2 separate regions of the Homo sapiens genome follow, and region 1 is linked to region 2. Evidence: fine-mapped QTL for protein levels in blood plasma. A gene starts in region 2. The other region holds a variant in brackets. All regions are shown on one strand. Distances are from middle to middle. Region 1 has its middle 100 kb from the start of LINC00626. Region 2 holds the start of DPT (dermatopontin).

The links. A credible set is the group of variants that fine-mapping cannot tell apart. PIP is the posterior inclusion probability: the model's chance that the variant is causal. Sun 2018 read protein levels with aptamers (SomaScan).
Region 1: its variant is the best candidate, but not a certain one, in a credible set for the plasma level of the DPT protein (Sun 2018, PIP 0.89).

Annotation. Positions count from the first base shown.
Region 1 is chr1:168,883,592-168,899,559 of GRCh38, forward strand. It overlaps the pseudogene SUMO1P2. Among named protein-coding and RNA genes, the nearest start is that of LINC00626, 100 kb to the left of the region's middle. The variant T/TTGTGTGTGTG (reference allele first, on the strand shown) is at 8,687.
Region 2 is chr1:168,722,124-168,738,091 of GRCh38, forward strand. DPT (dermatopontin) reads right to left here and starts at 7,083. Exons shown (of 4, transcript NM_001937.5): 1 at 6,747-7,083. The coding sequence starts at 7,051.

The DNA.
Region 1 (15,968 bases), 160 kb after region 2:
TAGTATTCCATGGTGTATATGTGCCACATTTTCTTTATTATTATTATTATTATTATACTTTAAGTTTTAGGGTACATGTGCACAATGTGCAGGTTAGTTACATATGTATACATGTGCCATGCTGGTGTGCTGCACCCATTGACTCGTCATTTAGCATTAGGTATATCTCCTAATGCTATCCCTCCCCCATCCCCCCACCCCACAACAGTCCCCAGAGTGTGATGTTCCCCTTCCTGTGTCCATGTGTTCTCATTGTTCAATTCCCATCTATGAGTGAGAACATGCGGTGTTTGGTTTTTTGTCCTTGCCATAGTTTACTGAGAATGATGATTTCCAGTTTCATCCATGTCCCTACAAAGGACATGAACTCATCATTTTTTATGGCTGCATAGTATTCCATGGTGTATATGTGCCACATTTTCTTAATCCAGTCTATCATTGTTGGACATTTGGATTGGTTCCAAGTCTTTGCTATTGTGAATAGTGCTGCAATAAACATACATGTGCATGTGTCTTTATAGCAGCATGATTTATAGTCCTTTGGGTATATACCCAGTAATGGGATGGCTGGGTCAAATGCTATTTCTAGTTCTAGATCCCTGAGGAATCGCCACACTGACTTCCACAATGGTTGAACTAGTTTACAGTCCCACCAACAGTGTCAAAGTGTTCCTATTTCTCCACATCCTCTCCAGCACCTGTTGTTTGCTGACTTTTTAATGATTGCCATTCTAACTGATGTGAGATGGTATCTCATTGTGGTTTTGATTTGCATTTCTCTGATATATGTGCCACATTTTCTTAATCCAGTCTATGATTGTTGGACATTTGGGTTTGTTTCAAGTCTTTGCTATTGTGAATAGTGCCGCAATAAACATATGTATGCATGTGTCTTTATAGCAGCATGTTTTATAATCCTTTGGGCATATACCCAGTAATGGGATGGCTGGGTCAAATAGTATTTCTAGTTCTAGATCCCCGAGGAATCACCACACTGACTTCCACAATGGTTAAACTAGTTTACAGTCCCACCAACAGTGTAAAAGTGTTCCTATTTCTCCACATCCTCTCCAGCACCTGTTGTTTCCTGACTTTTTAATGATCGCCATTCTAACTGGTGTGAGATGGTATCTCATTGTAGTTTTGATTTGCATGTCTCTGATGGCCAGTGCTGATGAGCATTTTTTCATGTGTATGTTGGCTGCATAAATGTCTTCTTTTGAGAAGTGTCTGTTCATATCCTTTGCCCACTTTTTGATGGGATTGTTTGCTTTCTTCTTGTAAATTTGTTTGAGTTCTTTGTAGATTCTGGATATTAGCCCTTTGTCAGATGAGTAGATGGCAAAACTTTTCTCCCATTCTGTAGGTTGCCTGTTCACTCTAATGGTAGTTTCTTTTGCTGTGCAGAAGCTCTTTAGTTTAATTAGATCCTATTTGTCAATTTTGGCTTTTGCTGCCATTGCTATTGATGTTTTAGACATGAAGTCCTTCCCATGCCTATGTCCTGAATGGTAATGCCTAGGTTTTCTTCTAGGGTTTTTATGGTTTTAGGTCTAACATTTAAGTTTTTAATCCATCTTGAATTAATTTTTGTATAAGGTGTAAGGAAGGGATCCAGTTTCAGTTTTCTATATATGGCTAGCCAGTTTTCCCAGCACCATTTATTAAATAGGGAATCCTTTCCCCATTTCTTGTTTTTGTCAGATTTGTCAAAGATCAGATAGTTGTAGATATGCGGCATGATTTCTGAGAGTTCTGTTCTGTTCCATTGGTCTATATCTCTGTTTTGGTACCAGTACCATGCTGCTTTGGTTACTGTAGCTTTGTAGTATAGTTTGAAGTTACGTAGCGTGATGCCTCCAGCTTTGTTCTTTTGGCTTAGGATTGACTGGGCAATGTGGGCTCTTCTTTGGTTCCATATGAACTTTAAAGTAGTTTTTTCAATTCTGTGAAGAAAGTCATTGGTAGCTTGATGGGGATGGCATTGAATCTATAAATTACCTTGGGCAGTATGGCTATTTTCACAATATTGATTCTTCCTACCCATGAGCATGGAATGTTCTTCCATTTGTTTGTATCCTCTTTTATTTCATTGAACAGTGGTTTGTAGTTCTCCTTGAAGAGGTCCTTCACATCCCTTGTAAGTTGGATTCCTAGGTATTTTATTCTCTTTGAAGCAATTGTGAATGGGAGTTCACTCATGATTTGGGTCTCTGTTTGTCTGTTATTGGTGTATAAGAATGCTTGTGATTTTTGTACATTGATTTTGTATCCTGAGACTTTGCTGAAGTTGCCTATCAGCTTAAGGAGATTTTGGGCTGAGACAATGGGGTTTTCTAGATATACAATCATGTCATCTGCAAACAGGGACAATTTGACTTCCTCTTTTCCTAACTGAATGCCCTTTATTTCCTTCTCCTGCCTGATTGCCCTGGCCAGAACTTCCAACACTATGTTGAATAGGAGTGGTGAGAGAGGGCATCCCTGCCTTGTGTGAAATTGAGGCAATAATTAATAGCTTACCAACCAAAAAAAGTCTAGGACCAGATGGATTCACAGCCGAATTCTACCAGAGGTACAAGGAGGAGCTAGTACCATTCCTTCTGAAACTATTCCAATCAATAGAAAAAGAGGGAATCCTCCCTAACTCATTTTATGAGGCCAGCATTATCCTTATACTAAAGCCTGGCAGAGACACAACAAAAAAAGAGAATTTTAGACCAATATCCCTGAAGAACATTGATGCAAAAATCCTCAATAAAATACTGGCAAACTGAATCCAGCAGCACATCAAAAAGCTTATCCACCATGATCAAGTGGGCTTCATTCCTGGGATGCAAGGCTAGTTCAACATACGCAAATCAATAAACGTAATCCAGCATATAAACAGAACCAATGACAAAAACCACATGATTATCTCCATAGATGCAGAAAAGGCCTTTGACAAAATTCAAGAAGGCTTCATGCTAAAAACTTTCAATAAATTAGGTATTGATGGGATGTATCTCAAAATAATTAGAGCTATTTATGACAAACCCACAGCCAATATCATACTGAATGGGCAAAAACTGGAAGCATTCCCTTTGAAAACTGGAAAGTTTTTTTAAAAGAAGCAAACTACCCAAGTCATTCAAAAACTAAAAGATAACCTGAATAGTTTTTTGTCTATATTTGAAGGAAATTGAACTTATAATTAAAAATTCTTCCCCACGCAATACCCCAGGCCCAGATGATTTCACAGTTGAATTCTTTCAAACATTTATTGAAGAAATAATGTCAATTCTTTCTTTTTTGTTTGTCCAAGATGGTGGATTAGAGGCATTGCCAGCATACCTCTCCCACTTGGAAGGACAAAGTCGTGTGTAGAGATTCACACTGTGAACTTTTTTCAGGAAGTGATGCAGAAACTGAACAGGGTAACCAAAGGAATCTGTAGACCCTTTGAAGAAAGCAACAGGCTGCAGCCTACACAGTGAGTCAGGTAAAGGGCTATGAGTCCCTAGGGTGAGAGGAGAGACTGCCCCTGGGACACACAGCCCCTCCAGGGACCCTGGAAGTCTAGGTCCCAGGGGAAGGCCTTAACCCTACCCAGTACAGGAACCAACCTGGGGAGGCACATGGAATATAAAAGTAGGAGCAGCACAGGAAGACCCTTGCATGCACTCCCAGTTTCCAGTGCAGACGGAGGGAAAGCATTTTTCACTGTTCCTCACAGAGGACCCTGCAGAGCACAGCCAAATAGTTCAGGCAGGGGTCTCAGGTTGAAATAAGCCCCCAACTGGGTTTCACGATATAATCTTGGGTAAGGATGAACTCCCTTAGCCAGGGCTGGGGCAGGGGAGTGAAAATTGTGCTCCAGCTGCTAGTCCAGGAACCACAAGTGCAGAAGCTGGGTGCCCAGCTTCGCAGTGGATAGGGAGGGGCATGGACTGAAAGCCACAGTTGCCATCTCCAGAGGGAAAGCATATGCTTTGGAGCAGTTGTGAGTTCTGAATGCAGGCCACCTGGAACTGAGCCCACCGCTGCCAGTGGAACACTGCACGAGTGGTTATGCCTCGCCAAGTGTGTGGGATCTGTGTGGGGCTTACCATCACCTGCTACTCCCCTCTCCCTGTGCTAACTCTTCTGTGCAGCAGAGGCAGCAATACTACCCTCTGGAATATCAACCCAGTGGCCTGAGAACTGCTCCTGTCTTCTGATACCCACAAGGGCTGCTGCTTACCCTGCATGAGACTCACAGTACAAACCTACCTGACTCAGCCCCCACCTGGCTTTGCCCCACAACCTGCCCTGGTAACTTAATACAAAAGATAGAATCTTTTGGGAGCTATATGGCTTCTTTCATTGCCTGAGAAACCAGAGTATCCTCCACTTCCCAGGCAAAATAAGGCAAGCAAAAATCCCACTGCTACCACTGCAGCTGATGCTCTTTTGCAAGCACCACCTCCTAGCTGGAGACCAACCAATGCAGTCCATTACAGCATCTCCTGAGAGAATAACACTGCACCCAGGAAGGAGAAAACAGCTGCATGATCTGAGCTATCACCACTGCCTGCACCACTCTGGCTAACCAGGAGGTCCTGAGTCTGTCTATATGACTACTTCATTACTACTTTAACTGGCATTCGAGAAAGCCAATACACTAAGGCTAACAATAACCAAGGAATCTCACAGAGTATACATCATTCCCCTGCCACTCCCATTAGAGCTGGTGCTGCTACCCACTGCTGGGAGACTTGAGGTCATATCACTTGATCCCTTGCAGACATTTTCCAGCTCCTGCCTGGAGTGTGGCAACCTTACTGGGTGGCTAGACCCAGAGGAGCAACAACACTCACAATAGTCTGTCTCCCAGGTACTCCCACTCTTAGGGGAAGAGGGAGTGTACCACAGCAAGGGAATACCCTGTGAGACAAAGTAATCTGTATGGCAGGCCTTGAGCAGCAGATCTTTCCACTGGTGGGAAGTTTCTTTCAGCAGAGGCAGAGTTGCAGTGCTGGGCTCAGCAGGGAGCATCTTCAGTTCTAACCCAACAGTCAGACAGCCCTGGTGTGTGTAAAGGGTATTGGAGAAGGGGACATCTTTCCCCCCTTGTTCACTATTGCACGCACAGTTGGGGCTTCTTCTATGGGAACTTGGCATGGGTGCAACTATAGACAGCCTTTCTCAAACACGTTGAAGTGACTGTATTCCTGCAGAAGGAACACCCTCCAGGTTCAGGCTTACAAGAGAGACAGAGTCACATTTCCTCTTTACTTGGAATATCAACACTCCTACAGATGAAAAGAGGCACCTGTGTGATCTGAATAGCTACAGCACTGAGACAGGGGTGTGTCTAAGAGTTAGATAACTCTCTTGCTAACCTGTCAGGGGACCTGAGGTGGCTCCAACCCTTCCCCCTGTTAAGACCTCAGTGTGACTCACTGAGAGCTCCTCCAGCCCCCTCTGTCAAGGCTTGGACATCTGTCTACCATTGGGTATTGCATTTGCCCACCTGCTTTAGCCACAACTGGTTGCTAACCAGAGACATCTCCCCTACTGGCCTGAAGCCTAAACCATCAAACCAGTAAATAAAATACTGGGGAAAAATAAATAAATAAATAAAAAGGTGCACACCACATGGTTATATGATAAGCTTCGAGAGACCTCTACCATTCCAACCCCAAAGGAGACAGTGAACTTGCTCACATACTGAGCACATTGCTACTACAACCAGCATATGAGAAAGCCACTATACAAAGACTCTGTATTATCAAGGAACTCTTACAGAGTCTTCACCCCTGAAAGCATCAAGAACCAAATATAATTAACTATAAGCATTAAAGTCACATCCTTAAGGGGAAAAAAGAAATTAACAAACAAATGAAGAAACACAGTTACATAAAACATAAATTCAAGAATAATGAGAAGAAATAGGCTACCCAAATGAGAAGAAACTCTGGTAATATGACAAAACAGGATTCTATAACACCTCTAAAGATAACACTAGCTCTTCAGCAATAGATCCAAACCAAGATGAAATCTTTGAAATACCAGATAAGGAATTCAGACAGTCAATTATTAAGCTACTCAAGGGGATTTCAGGGAAAGGTGAAAACCATCATAAAGAAATTTAGAAAGCATTTCAGGATATGAATGAAAAATTTTCTAGAAAGACAGATATTTTAAAGAAAAACCAATCAGAACTTCTGGAAATGAAAGACATACTTAGGGAATTACACAATGCTGTGGAAAGTTTTAACAATAGACTACAACAAGTAGAAGAAAGAATTTCAGAGCTCAAAGACAAGGCTTTTGAATTAACCTAATCAGACAAAAATAAAGAAAAGATAATCAAAAGAAATGAACGAAGTCTTCAAGAAATATGGGATTATGTAGAATGGTCAAACCTAAGAATAATTGTTGTTCCTAAGGAAGAGGAGAACACAGTAAGTCTGGGAAACATATTTCAGGGAATAATTGAAGAAAAATTCCCTGGTCTGGCTAGAGATCTAAATATCCAAATCCAAGAGGATCAAAGAACTCCTGGGAAATTCATTGCAAAAAGATCTTCACCAAGGCCTGTAGTCATCAGGCTATCTAAAGTCAACATGATAAAAAGAATTCTAAGTGCACTAAAACAAAAGTATCAGGTAACCCACAAAGGAAAACCTTTCAGACTAATAGCGGACTTCTCGGCAGAAACCTTACAGGCCAGAGAAGATTGGGGTTCTAACTTCAACCCCTTTAAACAGAACAACTGTTAGCTAAGAACTTTGTATCCAGCAAATCTGTTTCATAAATGAAGGTGAAATAAATCATTTTCAGACAAACAAATGCTGAGGGAATTTGCCACCACCAGACCAGCCCTACAATAAATGCTAGAAGGAGTTCTAAACCTTGAAATAAAAGCCAAATATGCACCAAAATAGAACCTCTTGAAAGCTTAAAACTCACAAGGGCTATAAACAATAACACAATGAAAAAAATCAAACTTAGGTAACAACATGATAAAGAGAACAGTAACTCACATCTCAATATTTCCATTGAATGTAAATGGCCTAAATGCTACACTTAAAAGATACAGAATGGCAGAAAGGATTTTTAAAAATCACAAACCAAATATTTGCTGTCTTCAACAGGCTCACCTAACATGTAAGAATTCATATAAACTCAAGGTAAAAGGGTGTAAAAAGATATTCCATGCAAATGGAAAGCAAAAGTGAGCAGGAATAGCTATTCTTATATTAGGAAAACAAAAAACAGACTTCAAAGGGTTAATGGTAAACTATATAATGATAAAAGGATCAATCCAACAGAAGATATTACATTCCTAAATTTATATATTCCTAACACTGTAGATCCCAGATTCATAAAACAATTACGACTAGACCTCAGAAATGAGATAGACAGCAACACAATAGTAGTGGGAGACTTCAATACACCACTGACAGTACTAGACAGATCTTTGAAAAAGAAAGTCAAGAAAGAAACTATGGACTTAAAAGGCATGCTAGAACAAATGGACTTAACAGATATTTACAGAACATTCTACCCAAGAACTGCAGAATATACATTCTACTGATAAGCACATGGAACATTCTCCAAGATAAACCATATGACAGGCCACAAAACACGTCTCAATAAATTTTTAAAAATTGAAATCATATCAAGTATCTTCTCAGACCACAGCAGAATAAAACTAGAAATCAAATCTAAAAGGAATCCTCAAAATTATAATGTGGAATAACTGGAACTGTCTCATACATTACAACAGGTACATCTATTATACATCTATTATACTTTGAAAATAATTTTGGCAGTTTCTTATAAAGTTAACCCTTACCAAATAATCTAATAATTCCATTCCTACATATTTACCCAAGAGAAATGAAAATGAGCACACAAAGACTTGTACACTAATGGTCATAGAAGCTTTATTTATCATAGTAAGCAAATTGAAACAACCCAAATGCCCAACAACTAGTGAATGGAAAACCAAATTGTAGTATATCTATACAATGGAATACTATTCAGCAACACAAAGGAACAAACTATTGATACATCCAACAACATGGACGAATCTCAAAACCATTATGCTAGACACTAGCATAGAAACCTACACACTATAAGAATCTGTTTACATGAAATGTTAGAAAAAGCAAAACTATAGCACCAGAAAGCAGATAGTGGTTATTAGGGGTCAGGGAGTCAGAGGAAGGGAATACAAAAAAGCATAGAAATTTTGGGGTTGATCAAAATATTCTTTATTTTAATTGTGGTGGTGGTTACACAGGTATAAACAGTTGTCAAAAGTCATCAAATTAGACATTTAAATTAGTGAATTTTGTTGTATGTAAATTATCTCCCGATAAAGCTTCTAAAAATAACATAATTTGATTACAGATAATTTTGCTGTATTTCTACTTTATAGTTTTTCTATGGTTTTAAAAACTAAAAAATTTTTACAATTTATTTTCTACTTTCTAACTTAATCTCAAATAATAAACATTCCCCATATTACTAAAATCTCTGTAATCATTTAATTCCTGCATAATATTCCAATTATACATATGCCACCCTTAATTAATCATTCCTTACTGGTAGGAATTTAGATTGTTTTCTATTTTCCTCTAAACTAATACTCTGATAATACTTTGTATACATATTCTTGTATATTTTGGGGGCTTTTTTCTTATGTTTTCTT[T/TTGTGTGTGTG]TGTGTGTGTGTATGTGTGTGTGTGTGTGTGTGTGTGTGTGAGACGGAGTCTTGCACTGTCGCCTAGGCTGGAGTGCAGTGGCATGATCTCGGCTCACTGCAAGCTCTACCTCCCAGGTTCATGCCATTCTCCTGCCTCAGCCTCCCAAGTAGCTGGGACTACAGGTGCCCGCTACCACGCCCAGCTAATTTTTTGTGTTTTTAGTAGAGACGGGGTTTCACCGTGTTAGCCAGGATGGTCTCGATCTCCTGACCTTGTGATCCACCCACCTCGGCCTCCCAAAGTGCTGGGAATACAGGCGTGAACCACCGCACCCGGCCTTTCTTTTATTTTCAAAGATAAAATTATTAGGAAAAAGTATAAGAACATTTTAAGAATATTTAAACATACCGTTAATTTTTTTCCAGGAAGATTGTACTGATTCAGCTCTCACTAGTAGTACATCGAAACAGCAATTTTACTGCACTCCTGCCACAACTGAATATTATCATTGTTTTAAATATTTGTTTAAACTCTCTTCTGAAACTTTACACTTCAGCTCAGCATTGGCTTGTAACTCTTCTCTGTATTTCTGTGCATAGGTAGTCCATATTATTCACCCTCCTTTGTGCAGGGTCCATTTCATCCATCCAAATATCCCAAGGATCTGGGATATTTGCAGATTCCCTGGGTCATGTAAGGGTCTACTCTGACATCATCTCATGTTATTCTACAGCTTGAGTCTGTCTCCATGTGTTACTTCTGTCTGGCCAGTGATCTCTCAGTGTGTTTTTGATTCCTCAGTGTTTATATCATCTCTAGTGATTAAAATTTTAACATAGCACAACACAGCATAGACACGGCACCTCTTTTCCTATGATGCAGCTCAGCAACATAGCATGATTCATCTTCCATGTAGAACAGCTGTGATTTGTGCTTCGTTGATGTCTGCCTCCCTACTTTTCCTCATAGCTCTCCTCTCATCTCCCCCATTTAGCATCTTTCACCGTTACAAGCAATGATCAGATAAACAGAGAGATGAAGGTAGTACAAAAGAAATCTCAGCCCTATCCTCCCTGTGGCTATGTTGGATCAATTTTCAGCCCATCTTCCCTAGTCCCTTCTCTGCTGGACTTAATGTTCCCTTCCTCCTGCCAGCTTAATCCTATCCAGGTCCTGAGTCAGTACTGACTACAGCTGCCTTAGTTCCAGCAGGCTCCAACTGGTTCTGGAGTTGGTCTGGGATATGATCATCTTTTATTTCTGACTCAATGTAAGACTCAGCTTGGGTATGTACTCCTCTGTATTAGAGCTCCCAGGATGGCTTGATGCCATTCTCGTGTGCTGCAGTGGCACCGTCTGCTTGCCTCTGTTATTATATACTTCCCGCTTGATTCCAACTGCCTGGTGACAAGGCAGCCTTCCCCACTGGAGATGAGAGCTCCAGGAGGTCAGGGGCTAGCTCATCATCCATGTATCCCTGGCAATTTACACAGTCCCTGGAGCCTGGCCCAAGCCTCCCTGTTTCTACTCTTGTTTTCCTACAACATACTCCTCACACAGCAGCCATGATGATCATTTAGAAACATAAATCATCCTTTCCCTGTAATTTACCAGTTTTCAGAGCAAGGGGTTGGTGCCCTACTTTTCTGAAATGGTATTTGTTGTGTTTTTGTTTTGGCTGGTGGTTTTGTGGTTCTCTAGCAGTTTTTATTTTTTGTCTGTGTTATTATGAACTAATAGGCTTAAAATATATTCAATATGAGATAGTCAATTTCAGTCACTATTGTTTTTGATGTAAAGATTGTCCCATCTTGCACCGGCAGAAGTTCTTTCAAACTAGTTCCTGGGAGATCTTTTTGACACAGCCCTGTTATCTTTGAGAGATTCTTTATTGCCACCGCAAGGTTTATCATCAGGTTCATCTTACTTATTTCACCCTGGACTTGGACTCAGCCCTTCTCCATGAATCTCTGGTCCCTTTTAGTGTTAATGTTACTTAGAAACCATAATCTGAACACGTATGGATATTTCTTGCCACTGGTTTGTCATTATTTCTAAGAATTTGAGTGGACAAAATTAGGGAATACTCATTTTGGTTGTCCTGTTTTACTACATTTCAAAATAAAAAAAATCCCTAGTTGATGAGGAACATCTTTTTCCTTAGAGAAGAATTATAGTTATTAAATGTAGAAGAATTAGTGAAATTAGAAAATCCCCATTTAACAACACTAATGAAATAATTGATTCAGGCAATAAACATTAACAGATGCTAAAACCATTAAGAGAAGAGATGATAGGGACTTTTACAACGGAAGAATCAGGCTGTCTCATCTGAAGCCATTGATCAATGTAAGCGGTTTCAAAATGAGACAACCAGACATTATGTGCTACATGATGTAATGCAATAAAAAATACACAACATCACTTACAAACTTTTCTTGCCAAAAAATGTTAAACTTGAGTTGAATCCAGACTTACGTCTAACTTTTAGTTTGCAGACCAGTTGGAGAGCAAATAGACAAATCCAGAATTTGAACCAATTTGTAGGACAGCTAACTCAGTTTCTTCCAGAAGTCAAGGACCAGAAAAAAAAGGAGTGTGTGTGGGCGGGGGGAATCTGTTCTAAATTAAAAGAGACTTAAAAGACATCCCAAATGCCATGATTAGATCTCAACTGGATCCTGATTCAAATAAATCAATTGTAAATGGCAATGGAGGTTTTCACTGAGCAAGGTGACCATGGATGATTTCTTTCTTCTTTATATTTCCCTGGACAACTTTCTTTTCTTTCTTTTTTTTTTTTTTTTTTCTGAGACAGAGTCTTGCTCTGTCACCCAGGGTGGAGTGCAGTGGCGCGATCTCGGCTCATTGCAAGCTCTGCCTCTCAGGTTCACGCCATTCTCCTGCCTCAGCCTCCTGAGTAGCTGGGACTACAGGCACCCACCACCACGTCCGGCTAATTTTTTGCATTTTTATTAGAGATGGGGTTTCACCGTGTTAGCCAGGATGGTCTCGATCTCCTGACCTCGTGATCCACCCGCCTCAGCCTCCCAAAGTGCTGGGATTACAGGTGTGAGCCACCGTGCCTGGCCACTTCTCTGGACAACTTTCTATTAGCCCCTTGCTGCAATAGACATAGCTCACATCATAATCATATATTAAATTTGGAAAATAAAAATAGGAATAATCTCTTCCAGGCTTCTCTCACATTCACACCAACAATGGTTATTATTTTATGCTATCAATGTCAAATCACTCTAAATGGCTTATCCCTGCTGTTTTAAGTGGCATTGCTCTCACTGCTAGAGAGGCAGAGCATCCTCTCATATGCTCATTGGCCATTTATACTTCTCCTTTTGTAAATTACTTTTTTTGATGGTCTTGTCTATATTACAAACTTATCTTTCTATCATTGCTGTATAGTTTCATAGAAACTTGGGTAGTGTGGTGTGATCATTAACAGGAAAAGGTGAAGAAACTACTGAGGCTTGGCAGTTCCAGGGATTTCAGTGTCCTGGGTCCCTGAAAACCCAGCCTCTGTAATTCTCAGGGCAAGCATGCTTGCACAACCCCAGGGAGTGTCATTCACCAAAATACAGTGTGCTACTCTGTTCTGAAAGTCTACATGGAGAACCGGTGGGAGAATCTCAGTTTTCCTTGGGTGCAGACCTCTATATGAGATAAAATGTAAAATAAGTCTGGCAAGTGGGAAAACTTTAAAATACGGATTACATTTTAACACAGAAAAAAATAAAGAACATGTAACAAACCATCAGAGAGATTTATTTATGAAAAATTTAGCTCCTCCTATTCAAACAACATTTAGTTTCAGAAAGGTAGTAAGAGCCCAAGGAAACTTTAACCAGATATCACTCAGCTTCAGCAAAGCATGGGAGGACACTTTCCTGCTCGTAGTCTTATTGTTAGGGTGTCTCCTCTATGTTCTTGCATTTTTTCTCTTTATTTTCTGTTCCCATGATCACTTTCTGACTTTGTCTCCAGGATTCTGTTATTAAAACTATCCAGTATAAAAGAGATTCCCTTTTCCTCATCTTTTTCTCTTGAATGTTTCTGAGTTAGTCTGCCAGAAGTCAAGTTCTAAGAAAGCAGGACAATTTCAGGGAATTATCATATATTTATGTGATGCTGTGGCAGGGGGCAGATACACAATATAGAGGGGTCAATGGATTAAGAAAAATAAAAGGTCAGCAGCCATATGCTTGAAAGAAATTAGCTCAGGAAAACTAATTTGCTTGAGTTGGGAGAAGCAAGGGAGATTCAGAGAGAACCACAAAGAGGAAACATTGAGCATCTATTCTGTACCATCCCTTATTGACATTGCATTTCATTCTCATAATTCTAGGAGATAGACATGCTATCTGTATTTCACAAAAGAGAAAACGGAAATTCAGAAAGGCCAAGTGAGTTGCCAAATGTTACACAGCTTGTAGGTGTTGTTAGCACAATTCAACACCAACTCTGTTTAGCCTTGAATGCCATACATACTCTTTCTAAAATCACCCTGCTTCCAAAAACGGATAGAAAAAGAAAATGGACCATGAAGAAATCATGGATTCTAGGATATCAATTTTTGTAAAGTAATAAAAGTGGCATTTGTTCAAAGTTAAACAAGAGTTCTGTAGAATCATATTAGGCTGGTGCACCAACTTTACCTATGACCACTTTTCCTTAAGAACCACAGGTAGCAGGATTGTTCAGACTATGCAACTGGCAAACTGAGAAAAGATTTAAGTCAAACTTACTCAGGTATCCAGAAATGGGATTATTTTAATTCTATGGGAAAGTTCATTTCAAGAATGGTCATGGTCTGAGGAAAAGAGGAAAAATAGAAAGTAGAACATGTATTTATGGTTTATACCTCCTGAGGATATTGTGGTAGAAAACAATTTAAATGCCTGTAAACTTTGGCAGGTGATACTGACTTTATCTGAAATCTCCTCTATCACCTTTTTCATCTCCTTGAAGAACTCCTATGGATCCTTAAAAGCTAAGCTCAGACGTTACCTGCTCAATGCTTCAGAGTTAATCAGCCTGTTCCTTATCATCATTTCTGTATTTCTCTCTTATTTTGAGGCTCCTGTTGGCTCATGTACTACAGCTCTAGCATTCTTCACTGTTGACATAGATGGATTCTACTGACCTCCTACTGCAAGTGATGGTGATGACTAGTGATGTCATCACTATCATGGATAGCTCATAATCTCTTCTCTAGAAGTGTTACATCACCCTGTGTCTCTCATGCCCAGAAGGAAAGCCCATTCAGTCTCCAATCTGTGCAACACCTCTCTCTAACCACAGCCCCTGATCCTTTCAGCTTTCTTACTTTTAATCCCATTCTTTCACGTGAATGAGCTGTCCAAGTCATTTGCTTAGACGCTGTCAATTGCTTAGACCCTGTGTCTTATCTCTCTCACTACTCTTTTGTCAATATTCTTAACTATCATCCAGTTTTTGAGTTCATTGCACCTGCCCAGAAAAGTCATAACCTTGGATCAATCAAGCTACTCACCTTCTCACTGCCATACTTGAATTGCTGAGTGCCAGGAAAAAAAGGTAACATACCCATGCAGATTATTGACAGTATGAAGTCATTCTTTTAAACTTTAGCTTGACCATGTAGCTATGCAGCAGTCCTTCTCTGAGACTCAAGTCAGCCCAATCCTATTACTCTACAGTAGCTCTTACAGATCCTTACCATTTTTTAGAAGCCACCTACCTACCACCCTCTCCATTATTCTTGGATGCCACAGCTCTCACCTACCGCATAGAGGCTTCTTGACTGCACCCTGCCCCTTCCCTCATGCCTTTAGAAACACTGCATAGCAGTGACCCCTGGGTGAAGCCCCTGTCACCTATGTAAGATCAGGAGGCAAAACCTTCAACTGATGACTTGGAGGATAAGAAGGAATGAGAATATGTTAAACTCAAAGTCATTGGACAGGATAGCAGCGAGATTCACTTCAAAGTGAAAATGACAACACATCTCAAGAAACTCAAAGAATCATACTGTCAAAGGCAGGGAGTTCCAATGAATTCACTCAGATTTGTCTTTGAAGATCAGAGAATTGCTGCTACTCATACTATAAAAGAACTGGGAATGGAGTAAGAAGATGTGATTGAAGTTTATCATGAGCAAATGAGGTCATTCAGTAGTTTAGGTATTCTTTTATTTGTTTTTCTTTTCCCTCAATCATTTTTTTATTTTTAAAATAGTTCTTTTGTAATGTGGTGCTCAAAATGGAATTGAAAACTGGCACTCCATCTCTTTAAAACATCTGGTAATTTGAATTCTAGTGCTCATTATTCATTATCATTTGCTTTCATTGTGCTGATTTTTGGTGATCAAGCCTCAGTTCCCTTCGTATTGCCCTCTCCTTTTTAAAAATTACATGTGTGCACAGAGAGACCACCTTTTTTAGGACTATGCATTTTCAGGCTTGTAGCAATAAGTAAGATCGACCAAGGCAAGTGTTTGTAAAGACTTCCCAATTGGCCCTAAAGTTCTAGCATGTGATTGCTTCACTCCTGGACTGTGACTTTCACTGGGAGATGTAAGCTTTTCAGAGAACTGAACTGTGGAAAAATGACCTTTCCTTAACTTGAAGATAGCTTTAAAATTAGAGTCTAGACCAAAAGAAGAGGAATAGCATATTGGAGTCAAGATGACAGATAAGGTGAGAGTAATGACTAACTCCAAAGATGGCTTCACTGAAAAGAATGCATTTTAAGATCTAAAAAATAAAAATCTTGTCAGAAGATTCCATCATCCTGAATCATAAATCAGACAATGTGACTCTCTTCCTGTCCTCAAGATCCTTCAACATAGCCATTGGAGGAGTATGATTATTTTTTAGTTATTGAAGGATTGTAAGGTAAAATAAAAGATGAATGGATGAAAATGGCTAGAATTTTAACATTGAATAATAAAATCCAAACTCGTTTGACAGTATACAAAGACATTTTTGAGCTCTTTGTCAACTTTCCCAATTATATCTCTCCACTTAGTCTTCATATTCTATGCCCCAGCCAGACTGAAATATTTGCAATTCCAAGAAAGTTCCACATGCCATCTTTGCCCCGTGCTGCTGCTCAGGTGAGTCTCTGTGTCTCCTGCTTAGTTTTTAGTTTTATTTATTAATAACCTTCCAAAAAAAAAAAGTCAATTAGTTTTCCCAAAGCTACGTGATCCCTCAAGAACCATGTGCATTTTTATATTACTTATCATATGGCATAATATTCTTCTACTCATTTGTCTGTCTCACCAAGTAAATGTTCCTT
Region 2 (15,968 bases):
GAGAGCAATTCCAGGTCACACAGGAATTGCATGAGCTACATTAGCATCACAGTAAATTTGACGTGAGTTTATGAATATCAATTATAATATTTTTAAACAAGAGATCTAATGCTATCTCCGTGTCTATTAAAATGTAATAAATATTCAAGACACTTATAATGTACACATAATATTTATAGACTGTGATTAAATTATATGTTCCAAAAGCAAAATGATATATTTCAGAGGCTCTGTAATCTAGCAATTTGGTTTTCAACTCCAGCTTTGTAATTTACCAACTGTGTGATACTTGTCTCCATGAGTCTCAGTTTACACAGAGTAGTCATGATAAAGTAATAATAAATAACCTTTATCAAGGACTTGCAATGTGCAGGCATTGTGCTTAGCACTATGCGTGCATTAATTATTTTAATTATCAAAACAATCCTATAAAATGGGTTCAAATAATGAGCTTCTCACCACGATCACCATTTTACGTATAAGGAAACTTAGGTTTAGAGAAGGTAAGTAATTCCCCTAAGGACACAAGTTAATGTACATATATTATCTTATTTAATTCTCACAACAACAGTTCTAGGGAGGTGTGTTTTAGTTGTGAAAGCTGAGTATTTCGGAGTTGAGACGACTTGAGTAAAGGTAGTAGTGGGGTCAGTGGGGCTGCATTTTGAGAATTGTTCTGACTCTAAACTTCATTAACTTTTCAATACTTCAAGATCCCTCAAAGAAACACACACACACACACACACACACACACACACACGATATCTTAACTCTGCAGAAATCTCTTATTGATTGAGAAGATTGTGTCCTGCAGGTTCCCAGACAGAAGCAAATCCCCTCCTGGGAGGAGGGAGCTTTTGCCATCCTTACAAGAGCAGCCAACAACCATTTTTGCAGAGCTCAAGTTCCCCCAGACAATTGATTCCTAGCACTTAGGAGAGTGACCTAGATGGAAAGTTGGCAAGAATCCTAGATCTGTCATAACCCTATTCTCCCACACTCAGCCTTCTTGCCCTCAGAAGTCATCCTTAGGTGGATTTGATATCTTTTTTAGGTCAGCACTCACTATGGCTTTATCCAGGAACAAAAATAACATCAGCATTTCATATCACCCACAGCACTGTGGAATCAGGCTGGCTGGCTCAGGTCCTCCGTCTGCCATCTGCTAGCCATGCAAGGGCAACCTCCTCATGTGTGAAACACCTGGATTCCAATACTGTTGTGAAGATCAAACAATATTAGCTTTTGAATAACTCATGGGCATAGACTGTATGTTATTCATCTCCATCTTCCTGGGGCCTGGGAAAGTTTGTGCTAATAAGCATTTGGTAGTGAATGAATAAACAAATGAACATATAAATGAGGAATACTCTATAAATCATAAATCACCACGTAGATCAGGGTTAGGGCCATAGAACCTATACTTATGTAAAGTTATGGATTTCTCTCCTAATTCCAAACAGAATTGCTCCATGACCCATCTCTCCCCTTCTACTGATATTTATATCTACTTTTGTAAAAAGAGGATGACAGTTCCTAACCTGACAGCAATGTTTTTATTCAGTTTTTAATTGCTTCAGTCTCATGGCCTTTATTCCTATTCTGTGAGGTAAGGAGGTTGCTCTAGATTGTGCCCAAGACCCCCTCCAGTGCTGGAATTCCACGATTCTGTTGTACTATATTTGTGCTGCATCCTTATATTTATTTTTTTAAATTTTATTTTGAAGTAATTTCAGATTTACAGAATGCTTGTAAAGACAGCACACAAAATTCATGTATACTCTTCACCCAGGTTCCTCTAATGTTAATTTTCATAACTCTAGAGTGTCTAGGAATGCTAAGAAATGCTAAGAAATTAACCTTGGTATAACACCAAACTGATTTCATCAGTTCTTCCACAAATGTCAAACCAGGATAGGTTACTGTGCAGCATTTAGCCCTTATGGCTTTTGAAATAAAGAGTTTACTTTCAATTTTTGAAATTGATCGAGACCTTAAGATTATTGAGAGAATGAAAACCTGATAAAAACTTCATTCTGCGGCGGCAAAGTGTGTCAGCCATCCTCTGTGCATGTTTTAGCGATCCTTAAGAAATCTTGAAAGACCATCCTGCATGTTGGTAAATGCAATAAATCAAAATGAGATGTGAACAATACAGTTGGAACCCCTACTATAGACACTGGAATATTGGGAATCAAAGACATAAGCAAAATGGTTCCCCTGTGGGAAAACCTGCAGGCCTCCTTGCGGAGGGCCGTGGGGACACTGGCTGGGGTTTGGACTGCTGATTTGGTCTTTCACTGCATATGTATTGAGGGCCTGTTATGTACCAGCACTTGTCTAGGCACTGGGGATACAGTGGTGAATGAGACAAAGCCCCTGTGTTCATGAAGCTTATATTTTAGTGAGGGAGACAAAACAAGAAACAAATGCCAATCAGGTAGTGACAAGGGCATTGTAGGAAACAAAGCAGGCTGAGGGAGTGGAGACAGCGAGATGTGTGGGGAGAGGAGGTGGTCTTGGAAAGCATCCCCGAGGAAGTGGGCCCTGTGAGTACTCAATACTCAGAACCATGACTCAGGACGACTGCCCTGAACTACACTGAGGCTTGGTCTTGCTTAGATTAGGGAAATAGTCCGACCATGGAAAACGGAGTTCCCACCCAACCTCTCCACCTTCAAATGCACCTCGATGCTGCCATAGCCCTGTTGCATAGATTCTTTCTCCTCTTCTCCAGTCTGTGGCTTGTCATTGAATTCATAAACTCAGCTCTAACACAAACTGCCACTCCAAAACTTCTCCTTGAGATTCTTTGAAGCCCGGGGTAAAAAGTAGATACCAATAAATGGACCACTTTTCCTCTGAACTCAGACTCCGTGGAAAGCTGGCTTGCCCAACATCAGCCACATCAATTTCAGATTCACTAAACTTTTACTACCTGCCCATGATGTGCTAGGCATTTGTTTTAGACTTCAATTTGCTTTAGAGTTTTCTTATACTTTATCCTACAAGTATCACAGTAACACAAGTAGCAGCTTGTGAGGTGGGAGTCACACCTTCCTTTTTCTTCCTTTGCTTTTCTTTCCTTTCCATTCCTTTCCTTTCCTTTCCTTTCCTTTCCTTTCCTTTCTCTTTCCCTTCCTTTCTTCCTTCCTTCTTTCCTTCCTTCCTTCAATCCTTCCTTCCTCCCTCCCTCCCTTCCTTCTCTCTCTCTCTTTCTTTCTTTCTTCTCTTTCTTTTTTGCCAGAATGAGATACCGAATGTCACAGATACAAGCAGGAGCTGTGAATCCAGGTTTCCTGCATCCAAGCCCAGGGCTCCTTCCGCTACACAGTAGCTCAATCTCACTAGAAAATTTCACCTTCATCTTATTCCACACAGGACCCAGTGCCCTACAGCCTGTGCTGACCCAAGTTAGAGCAGATTCCCTGAGAACAACCTAGGCATGCCCTGGGATGGTGAAATACCACTCATGGGGACCCAGGTAAGGCCTCCTGGTAGTTGTTAGTGCCAGAGACCATCATCCAAACTTCAGAAGCCGGCACTTGAAGAGGTGATTTTCAACAGAGAAACTGTGATCAATGGCAGCACCACAGACCACTCAGCTATGATGGCAACACCTTTTAAAGATGGCACTTTGATTAGAAAGATTTTCTTTTTAGCAGATCCTATGTGCTATTGTCAAGCCTATATTCGAGACTCCTCCCCTCTTTTAAAATAAACCTGAAAGCTAATTTGGTTATACAAGGCAGCCCAACTGCACAAAACCATCAACAACTGTTCCCTGAGAACAGACTAAGCCTGTAGCCAACGTCAGATGTAATAGCTCCCCAGCCCATAAGCAATTTCTTTCCTTACAGATTTTTCACTGAGACTGGAGGCTGAACTCAAAGGCATAATCATTTTTAAAAGTGCTTCCAGGGTAATTCGTGTCAGTCCTGGGGCAGCTGGATCTTATTGTAAAGAAGTTGTTTTGCATGTTTGTGAGTTTTCAACCCTGTGATTAGTAGACGGGGAGAAGGAGGCAACAGAGGGTGGAAGGAGGAAAGGAAACCAAAATTACTAGACACTGCACACCCAAAAATGCCGAGTAAGAGGAGGTGGAAGAGGTATCTCGCCTATCAGCTTTTCCCTTGACTCCCATGGGCCAAATAAAATCATGTTATTTCACCTTCTTCCTCTTTTGCTTTTCTTCAAATAGTTTGGGAGTTCATGACAAACCAGTCACAGTTGGCAAGTTTAAAACTAAACATCATTTGGCTTCTCTCTCTAGCAGGGATGAACACAAAGATCAACAGAATGCAAGAAAAAGCCAAGAGTGTTTTCAGGGGTGAGCCACAGCTCTGTGGAGCCTTCAGAGATCATGCAGCCTGACTGCTCACTTTCCAAATGAGGCGGGAGACTGGAGGGCTGAGCGTCTGGGCCAAGGTCACACCACAAGTCATTAGAACCAGGATCCAGACCCAGGCCTCCTGATTCAGAGCCTAGGGCTCTTCCTCTATGGCTTGGGGAACCATGGCTGAGTGCTGCTTGACTGTGGCACAAAAAACGGCTGTTAGAAAGGAGTCGCACCCATGCGATAGTGCTCCTGAGAGGTGAGGACTGGAGGGACAGTTGTAATTAGGTCATTGCCATGCTCCACATTAGGCAGTGGGCCTGGCTGTGAGGAGTCATGGAGACAACAATCAAGGTGAGCCTGGTCTCTGAATCAGCATCTGTCAGAAGGGGTTTTGAATAACTAAATCTGCTCACCAGAGGCCATGGGGGTGGATGAGAATGGCCCACAAAGGCTGTCCAAGCAGCCTCCACAGCCCCGGCACCCTCACCTGCTGCTGCCTGTGTGAGTCCTCTCCCCACCCCTTCTACAGTCCGGCTGAGCCCCTCCACAGTCCTGGTAACCAAGTAGGGATCATCCCTCTGGGGCTGGGCTTCTGCTGTGGTCTTGCAGGTCCCCACCCTCTCCAGGAGGAAGAACTGCCCTGAATCTGGTCCTGTGGCACTGGCTCTGCTGACAGAGTCAGCTGTCGGGTGGGAGCCCACTCTGGGTGGAGGCAGCAGCCTCTCAGGAGCCCGTCACTGTGGCAAAGTACAAACTCTTTGAAGCAAAGACTCTGTGGATCCAAACCCCAGCTTTCTAGCCGAGGAAATACTGGATCTCTAGACTGCAGTTTGTCTACCTATAAATGGGATATACCCTTGTTTTGAGCATTACACGAGATGATCCACATAAAGCACTTAGCATGGAGCCTGCTCAGGGTAAGCACTCAATAAATGGTAGCTGTTGTCATTACTTAAAGGCCCGCTCTCTTTCCTGGCTCCCCCACCCATCGGTGTTTCTTCCTCTTGGATTTCCCATCATCACCTCTCTACTGGTTGTGTCCCCCAGGGTTCTATGCTTTTTCTTTTTTCTATTTTCTTTTTTTTTTTTTTTTGAGGCAGAGTCTTGCTCTGCCACCCAGGAGGGAATACAGTGGTGCGAGCATGGCTCACTGCAGCCTCGACTCCCTGGGCTCAAGTGATCCTCCTACCTTAGCCTCCTGAGTAGCTGGGACCACAGGCTGCATGCAACTACACCGGGCTAATTTTTTTTTTTCTGTAGAGATAGGGTCTGGCTGTGTTCCCTAGGCTGGTCTCGAACTCTTGATCTCAAGTGATCCTCCCTCCCCAGCCTCCCAAAGTGTTTGGGATTACAGGCGTGAGCCACCACACCTGGCCAGATTTTGTGCTTGACCCCTCCAATCCCCACTACACTAAGTACTTGTTGCCACACATCTGGGTTGCTCTACAGATAGCACATGCAGCAGCCCTCCAGGTGGGCTTCCTCCTCCCTGGACTGCCTCCTCCGTTCTCTCCTCCAAGCCTCCTAGAGTGCTGGCTCCATCTAGGCTGTTGTAAATAATCAGCCTAGCAGTCAGTGCCTACTAGGATGAGCTCCTGACCAAGCACCTGGGCTGAGACCCAGCTGAGACAATCACACCCCACAAAAAAGTACAAGCTCGAAAAAATTCCATGCCACTGCTTAAGGCAGAATGCAGTCAGGGGAAGACAGCACCTCTCTCCAAAACCCTTTAGTAAACTATTTTCCAGCAATAAAACCCACTTTAAATTCAGGCAGAGAGAAGGACCTCAGTACTCATAATTGAGAGAGCACATTTAATCAAGGCAGTAGACAGCTATTTAATTCCACTTTCTTTTGCCTAAATGTCCTTGTCCCCTCTTTTCCATTCACTTGCTCTAAATCAATAGTTCTCAAACCCTCCGTGCTGAGAGATCAATTGTTTATTTTTCTTGTTCCCAAACTACTGTGGGCCAGTACTTTTGTAAAATGGTAAAAATAAATTTCTAAAAAAGAAAAATGCCATTCCGATGGCACAGAAAGTTTTAATTTCTATAAAGTTTATTACTTTCAGTTTCTGTACATATCTTTTGGTAGTCTGGTAAGCAAGCTTCTCGCCGACCTACACCAGCCCCTGGCCCAAACTGAGAGTAGGTAGAACAGCTTCTGGAAGGAACAGAGCCACAGAGGAGTCTGTCTCCCACAGACACTCCCCATCCCAGGTTTTTGTCCTGTCATGTAGTCCGCTCAGCAGCAGCCCTGCTCCACCCAGAGCATGCAGTGGTGAGGTTTGGGGTGGGATTTGCCCAGGCTTTGGTTACTGATATTCCTTGAGAGTCTAGCAGCCCCCAGGAGGAGGGATATGCAGAGATGTTCCCAGCCCCAGTGCAGTGCAGGGACTGGCCCTTACCATTCCATGCCAGCCCTGTTGATCTCCTCCCACCAGCACTCCGTGGGTTCCCCGAGGCTCTGTGGCGTGGGCATGCAGGCGTAGTTCCATTGTCTGTCAGAACCTTCCTTCTTGCTGAAGATGCTCCTCACGGCCACTATCACCTGCCCCTGGGGACACTGGTAGCTGAAGCCTTGCCGGTTCAAATTCACCCACCCATCATCGCTGTAGTCATGATACTGCTGGTATGGGTATCCATAATCGCCATACTGGCCCCAGGCCATGGTGACTAGGGGCAGAAGTACCCAGAGAAGACTGAGGTCCATGCTGCCTGGGATTTTGGCAAACAATGTCACTCTAAGATTGCTGGTCTGACCGTTTTATATAGCTGCCGCTGACATGTGGCTTCCAGATGTGGGTGAGAAGGATCCAACTGCAGTGTGTCATTGCTTAAGCAAAACTTTTCCATGCTGAGATGTCAGCCATAAGGACATTCAGCTTGTTTTAAGGTGGAATTCTAGGAATATACCAGCAGCATGTAAGTCTAAGAAGCTCCCTGGAGAAAGAACAACTTTGTATCTAGATTATAAAAGCCAACTGCTGCTCTACCCTGTAGAAATATTCACTTGAAAAACACTGATTAGTAGCATATTTGTCCCTCACCTTTCAGCACCTCACCCCTTTCTGTCCTACCCTACCCGCTACTAGCAAACCCCTGTATTTGTTCTCCAAACTAGCCTTCCGGGCCACACAAATACCCAGACAGTGATTTCAAAATACCGAAATCATAGACTGAAGTAACAGAGCCATCTAGGATTTCTGTAAGGCTGAATGCCTGTTTTTTTTTTTAAGTTGTCAATCCAACACTTTTTAACCCTTGAGTATAAGCGCGGGTATACCAGTTTGCAGGGCTACTCTGAGAACTCATAAGTTGCATAAGGAAGTACTATGGGCCCATGGGGAGATAAGTTGGATATGATTTCTACACTTAAGCATTCTACCATGCTGCTGAAATTGGACCCAGTCAAGTCTAGAAAGTGTGCTCTGCTCTCAAAATGTAATGGGTTTAATCTAAATAAACCCCCTATTTATCCTTCAGTATTTTTGCCCTCACATTGAATTTTCTTTTCATTGAGTTATAATTTACATATAATTAATTCACCTTTTAAAATACATAATGTACAGTAACATAGCCAGCACCCTAATCAAGACTTAGAACAGTTCCATCAATCCAAAACATCCCCTTATATCCCTTTGCAGTCAAATCTTCCCAAACACCCAGCCATTGGTAACCACTGATTTACTTTCTGTCTCTATGGTTTTGCCTTTTCCAGAATGTCAAGTAAATGGAATCATACCACACGTAGCCTTTCATGTCCATCTTTCACTTAGCATAATGCTTTTAAGGTTCATCCATTTTAAAATTCAACATCTCATTGTATGTGTTAGTATTTTGTTTCTTGTTATTGTTGAGTAATATTCCATAGCATGGATGTACCACAGATTGTTTATACATTTACTAGTTGAAAGACATTTGGGTTGTTTCCAGTTTTTGAAAATTCATTACTTTTTATGTAATGAATTTTATATTCATTATATTTTATATAATGAATTACATAAATGTAATTATAAAGTTGATATAAACATCTATGTATAGGTTTTTGTGTGAACAAATTTTTATTTCATTTGGGTCAATACCTAGGAGTGAGATTGCTGGTTCACAAGGTAATGTATGTTTAACTTTAAAAGAAACTACTGAGGCCGGGTGTGGTGGCTCATGCTTGTAATCCCAGCACTTTAGGAGGCCGAGGCGGGCGGATCACGAGGTCAGGAGATCGAGACCATCCTGGCTAACATGGTGAAACCCCGCCTCTACTAAAAATACAAAAAATTAGCCAGGCTTAGTGGCGGGCGCCTGTAGTCCCAGCTACTCGGGAGGCTGAGACAGGAGAATGGCGTGAACCCGAGAAGCGGAGCTTGCAGTGAGCCGAGATTGTGCCACTGCACTCCAGCCTGGGCTACAGAGCGAGACTCCGTCTCAAAAAAACAAAAAAAAGAAAGCAAGAAACTACCTAGCTGATTTCCAAAGTGGTGATACCATTGCCCACCACTACCAGAAAATTGCCATTAAAAAATTTTAGCTATTCAAATAGGTTTGTAGTGATATTTCAGTGTGGTTGTGATTTTCATTTCTCTAATGATCCATGATTTTGAGCATCTTTTCATGTGCTCATTACCCATTCCATGCATCCGTTGATGATTTGGCTTTTCAAATTTTTTGAAACCTTTGGGCATCTCTTAAGCACATAGTATTTCCCATTTCTCATCAGTATTGTTCTTAAAGTTTCTTAGAATTGTGATCATAGACCAATTCTATCTACAGCCTCTGTGAAGTTTGTTAAAATGTAGACAGTGGCTCTTCTCCAGGCCTGCTAAATCATAACCTCACAAGGGGTGCTCAGGTATTTATATTTTAAAAAATTTTCCAGGTGATTCTTATTCACATCAATTGCTAAGAGTCACCTTCCTAAAGGAATGTGGAGCCAGAGAAAAATCACACTATTAATCCCACCATCTGCCTAGCCTGTGGCACATTTACCAGACGGTATTCAGTCTAGATCAAACACCAAGATAGTCTTGAAAGGGAAAGACAGTCATACATGAGAATAAAGCAACAAGTAACTCGTGTGTGTGTGTGTGTGTGTGTGTGTTTGTGTGTGTGTTGGGCATGCAGTTTTCTTTGATGATCATGGTTACTGAAGCGAGGGGGAGAGGATCTGGGCTGAACAGCTATGTGAGGCTTAGTTTTGTTTTTAGCACCATCTTCTCCCACCACTTCCATCCGTAAGTAACTGCCCAGTGCTGGCATCGGAATTCTTCCTAGCTTAGAAGGATCTCTCTGATTCATGATATGCTGAAGCAATCATTCTCCACCTTATCAGCATTTAAGGATTACCTGGAAAGCTTTTGGAAACCTCCAGAGTCTAAGCAATTTCTGGACCAATCAGATCAGAAGCTTCTGAGCAGGGTCCTGACAATGACGTCCTTTGAAACCTTCCCTATAGGCTTCTCACCGGAAGCCAGGGTTGAGAACCTCTATGCTAGAGGGTTTTTTTTTTTTTTTAATTTTTTCAGTTTATCATCCTGATGCTCATGAGTTGTATCTTGCATTCTGGACATGATATGAGCTATTTTAAACCTTAAAGAGCTCTAAGAGACAAAGCAGATTATCATAAACACTCATCTTTATTATACATTTGTTTTCCAACAATTTCCAGGGCCTCTGCCTGATCTCCACTCTCCGCAGATTTCTTTCAACTACAGCTAGAACTACCTCAGCTGGATTCCCTTTAATGTGCAAAAATAAATATCTTCATGCTATGGTCCAGTTTTAATATAGATTTCTGTTACTTAAAGCTGAAAGCAACCTAACTCATCCAGTGTCTCAGGAGATTCCAGAAACTGCTGATGCCTTTGAGAGAGATTCTGGTGGCCGCATAGAGAATGATTTCCATACGCAGACATTGAGAACATAAGATTAATGCATTTACAGTTGACCATGTGTTTTCAACTAGGTTACTATGTTATCTTCCTCATAACTTTATATGTTAGTGAGGCATTATTGGAATTAGTTTCTCACAGATGGGGAAACTGTGGTGAGAGAACATTTTGGGCCAAATTTCTAGAACTGGAAGGATATGACCCCATGTCTTCTGATTCCCATTCTGCAATGCCTTCCATCATTTCATCAAAGTTACAGTTACTAATTATAACATTTATGAATAATTGTCAAATAATGCACTTATAAAGTATGTATATTAACATACACATATAACTAATTTGCGCTACGCATTTCTGCTGTTATTTGAAAAGTCTACTCAATAGACCCTGGGGACTTTAAAGAACTAAATGTTCAATAAGTAGTTTTTGGGGTGTTGCTCTAAAACCAACAGCATCAGCGTCACCTGGGAACTTGTTAGAAATGCAAATCCTCCGGCCCCTCTCAGACCTACTGAATCAGACACTGTAGGAGTAGAGCCCGGCAATGTGTGTTTGAACAAGCCCTTTAGGTAACTTGATACTCACTAAAGTGAGAATTACCGTATAGCAGATAATGCAGAACACTCTACCCAAATTCCAGGTGTCACTTCTCGAGAAGTTATGTAGTGATACTGAAGCCTAGATAACTCAGTTCACTAATTTTGATTCTGGCGCCCACACAATTCACCACTGGGCTATCTTACCTCCTAGTAGATAATGGACTTGAGATATTTTGGAGATTCTGACAAAGAGCATTCAAAAGTCTCCATGATTCTTCTTTTTCTTCTACCTCTTATTCTTCTTTTCTCTCTCCTTATCCTCCTCCTTCTTCGGCTGTATTGAGATATAATTAACATACCATACAATTCACCACTTAAGGTATATAATTCAATATATCCCTTAAATTAGTATGTTCACAGAGTTTATGCAACCACCACCGCAAGCAATTTTAGAATATTTTAACCACCCAAGAAACCCTGAACACATCAGTAGTCGCTCTCCATTTCCCTTCATCCTTTAGCCCTAGGCAACAATCAATCTACTTTGTGTCTCTATGGATTTGTCTGTTCTGGATATTTCGTATGAATAGAATCATTCAATATGTGGTCTTTCATGAATAGGTTCTTTCATTTAGCATAGGTTTTATGTTAGCGGTTCATAAGGTTCATCCATTTTGCAGCATGTATCACTAGTTCATTTCTTTATAATGCCAGATAATACTCTACAGTATACATCTACCATATATTATTTATCCATTTACAAGTTGATGGACATTTGAGTTGTTTCCACTTTTTGGCTATTATGAACAGTGTTGCTACAAACATGTATGTAGAAGTATATGTGTGGACATATGTTTTCATTTCTCTCAGGTATATACTCAGGAGTGGAATTGCTGGGTTATACGGTAATTTTGTGTTTAATCTTTTAATGACCTGCCAAACTGTTTTCCAAAGCAATCGTGCCATTTTACATTCTTACCAGCAGCGTATGAGAGCTCCAATTTCTTCTCCACATCCTCACCAACGCTTATTAAGTCTGGGTTCTTCTGAAAGGTGTAGGAACTCATAGCCACTCTGGTGACACTTTTTGCGACCTGGATCCACTCCTGTCTGGCAGCTTTCTCAAACATATAATCCCTTTTTGAGAGATTCTGAATATAATACTTTGCCCGATTTTAATTGAGAGCACCTAGAATGGCCCTAGAATCAACTCATTCCTAAGTTACTTTTACACTTTCTGGATTGGGGTAGCTGCTATTGTATATTGGGAGGGAATGATGTAGACTTACAGAGGTCACCCTGGAGCAGACCTGATCCACTGGAGAATTCCAGATGTGACGTGCTGGCCCCGAGGAGGGCTGCTCAGACAGGAGAAGGCAAGGCTCATGCTAGTGCCTGGGTGAAGCTGGTAGCCCCAGATGAATGGATGCTTAACCCAAAATATTGACTGTGAGTTATTGGAGGATTCCATTTTGCCTGCTGTCTTTTTTCCCTTTTAACTCCTGTGTATAATCAGGACTTGGCTGCAGCTCTAGGTGGCCAGAGTACTATCACAAACTTCCCAGCAAGTGTATGCTGAGCCATCCGTGGCTTTCCTCCAAAATGAGTCTGTGCCAGTTTCACGGTTTAGCTGAGAGAGGCATTCAATAGCCTCAGTACACCCAGGCTGTCCTCACCTTCAGCAAACTTGCCACCCTTGCATGACCCATTGCTTTTTAAGATCATTTGTGGAACCCACTGTCATATCATTTGGGGTTAGCCCCGAGGGCCACCAATAAGGTTAAAAATGCTCATACTGGAAGCAGCAGGAGAAAGAGTGACAATCCAAGTTGAGGAAATAGAGAAGATTGGGAGGAGTAGAATAAGGTGCACCTACTGTGTGCTAAATACTGTACTATGTGCTTTACATATGATAGACCAATTGACCTTCCAGCAGTTCTAAGAAAATTAGGTTCAGAGATCACTGGTAGCTCACCCCAATTTTCACAGCTAGTACAGAAAGGTGACTTGAATTTGTTAGTAACTATACTACCCCAAGTGCCAAATGGTCACAGCAGGGCCTCAGAGCAGTGGCAGATGGTTGTGAGAAGAGCAGAGACTCCTAAAATCCAAATATCTAAGTTAAAGTTCTGGTTCTGCAAGTAATCAAAATGACCTTTTGATTTGGGTCAGATAGTTTTTTGTTGTGGAGGCTGGCTGCCCTGTGTATTATAGGATGTTGGACAGCATCCCTGGCCTCTATCCACTAGATGCCAGTAGCATCTTCTCTTCCACCACTGTGACAATCAAAAATGTTCCAGACATTGCTAAATGTCTCCTGGAGGGAAAAATCATCTCTGGTTGAGAACCACTGAATCAGACAAAACCCATAACCTTTGTTTTATCATCTGTAAAATGGAGGATAATCACAACACCAGCCACTTACCACGAGATTATTGTGACAGTCATATCAAATAGTGGTCTTGCAAAGACTTTGTCAAGTGTAAAGCTTGAAACAAATGTACGTTGTTAGTCTGACCTCAGGGTAACACTAGAAGCTGGAGTTGAGGGAACAATCATGCATATTAGTGTAATGAACAGCCCCAGGACTCCGCAGGGCAGAAGAGTGTTCTTGTGCAGATGATGACTGGAGGGGTTTGGGAATGAGTAAAGCTGGGGGAATATGGCTCCACCACTCTCTGGAGTTCCATTAATATGTGGATGAATGTCAATCGCAGAGGTTCCTGAGAGTGAGTTTGCAGGGAGAGGTGTCAGGATAACAGGGCTGAGCACTAAAGGCAGAGTGAGGGTAGAGAATTCAGGAGGCTTGGGAACAGTAGGCAGATGGAGGAGCTATCGTGGTGGAGAAGAAGCTTGGGAACTTGCGAGCTTGGGAACCAGGACTGTGTCTTGGGGTGAGAGTAGGGATGGGGATGGGGATGGGGTGCTGCTAAGCCAAGTTAGCTCTGAGACACTCACAGAAGGAAGCTTCAGGGCCCAAGTGCCTAATTAGTGTTCTGGGGTCTGTGAGGATGAATGAAGCACAGAGATGTATGTGTAGGTGCTGGAAATATTGCTTTAGTAAATGTATTATATGCTCATAAGTGGAGGAACAGAGTTCAGGATACTGGTTACAACCTCTGAGCTCATGACTCGCTAGAGACCATGGTTAAAAAAAAGCGCGGGAGGAGGTTCATTGGAGAGATTTGGTTACAAACGGGGGAAAAGAAAGAAAACAATTTAATCAGAAAGTGCTTAAGTGATGTCATTTTAAGCCAAATTTTCTAATTTGAAATTGGGTTTTTAAGTGGGTAAACCTAAAGTTTATAAAATAAATAACAGCCCCTTTCATTTGTGTAGCATTTGGCACGATGTATATAAACCACACAATCCAGCACTCAATAAATATTTATTCTTTTCCATGTGCAGGGATTTAACAGATCTCAGTTCATCTTTGCATTGGTGATGGTAGTAAAGTTGGCTTTCTTATTTCCATTTTATCAGTTTGGAAATAGAGGCTTTGAGAGGTACAGTGATGTCCAAAGTTACAGAAATATTGGGTGACAGGGCTTGGGCATAAGCCAAAGTTCCCTAGTTTGAGCCCTGCCAGTTCTCTTGGAGGACACGGCATTGAGGGATTTGGTGACACATCCTTTAGGGAAGCAAGGTGGCCAATTCTAGAGCACTTTGCCAGTTCACACAGTTTGTCCAAGCCTTTCCCTCCTACAATCCTGAAGGCAGGTGGTGGGGGCAGGGCTTTAGCAGGAGGAGCAGCCTCCCTGAAAATAACATCCTCCCATACAGGACATCTCTGCTGGTGCCGTCCTCCAGTGCGTTTTCTGTGTGCTGCTTCCTCTGATCAAGCTCGGCTTGCTCTTTAACCAAGATTCACGCATTCTTGCTCCCATTCCTGAAGCTACAGATTGGCACCTCTTTTCGGCATTGTTCAATCACGGTACATCAACTTCAGATAATGGACTTGGTCACCTAAGAAGCATACTGTCTCTCCCAGCTCTAAAAACACACACCCACCCCAAAGTATTGATACATGTGAGGTCCACAGACCACCTGCATCACAGCCATGGAGGCATGTTAGAGGAAGATTCCTGAGTTTTTGACAGCCTTGCTTCAGTGGAATCCTGGAGGTGGGGTCCCGGAAGCTGCCATTTTTTTTTAGACGGAGTCTTGCTCTGTCACCAGGCTGGAGTGCAGTGGCGTGATCTCGGCTCACTGCAACCTCCGCCTCCCAGTTCAGGCAATTCTCCTGCCTCAGCCTCCCGAGTAGCTGGGACTACAGGCGCGCCACCATGCCCAGCTAATTCTTGCATTTTTAGTAGAGATGAGGTTTCACCATGTTGGCCAGGATGGTCTTCATCTCTTGACCTCATGATCTGCCTGCCTTGGCCTCCCAAAGTGCTGGGATTACAGGCATGAGCCACTGCGCCCAGGCGGAATCTGCCTTTTTAACGAGCTTTCCCACATGACTTTTATGCATCCCGAAGTGTAAAACCACAGGCTAAGGTGCATAAGGATGTTTATGATTTTGTAAGCTTCCCAAGTATGAGGCAGAACCAGGCAGGGCTCCTCTGCCAACTACCCTGTCGTTGGTTACAGTAGAAATACTCCCCTGGCTCTGTGGCCTGTGGGCTCTGCTAAGGGCTTTGCACCCTAATCCTGCTCTCAGGGAGCCCACCACTTGCCTCCTGTCACACACCACCCACACAGGCAGTGACAGAGCAGAACTGAGAACTGCAGGAAAGGCAGCAGCTCAGCCTTCTTCTCATGCCTGTCAACAGCCTGGAGCTGAGCACGCTGCACACTAATGAGTACTATTTTCTACCCCAGCTTTTTAAAATGCTGCAATATTAACAACTACCAAAATAATTCAACTCTCTACAGCAGTGGGTTGGCTTAGCCGAAAAAGACACCAACGGGGCTATGGCATCTTTGCTGTGTTGCTAAAGCCCTGCAGAGTATATGCACGTGCACATGCACTCAAATAGAAATGCACATACTTTAATTTATCAGGAAAACTAAATGAGACAATACATGTAAATGTACCGTGCTTGGAACAGAGCCTGGTACTGCTGGTACAAAAAACAATCAGATGTCATTTTGCAAGGGGATGTACTGAATATTCCCTATTTACTTTTCAGATCTTTCTCTTTCCTGCACTGTGTTCTAGGAGGCTTTATGTGCTACCTTAAGGTGCTCTCTTGCCCTC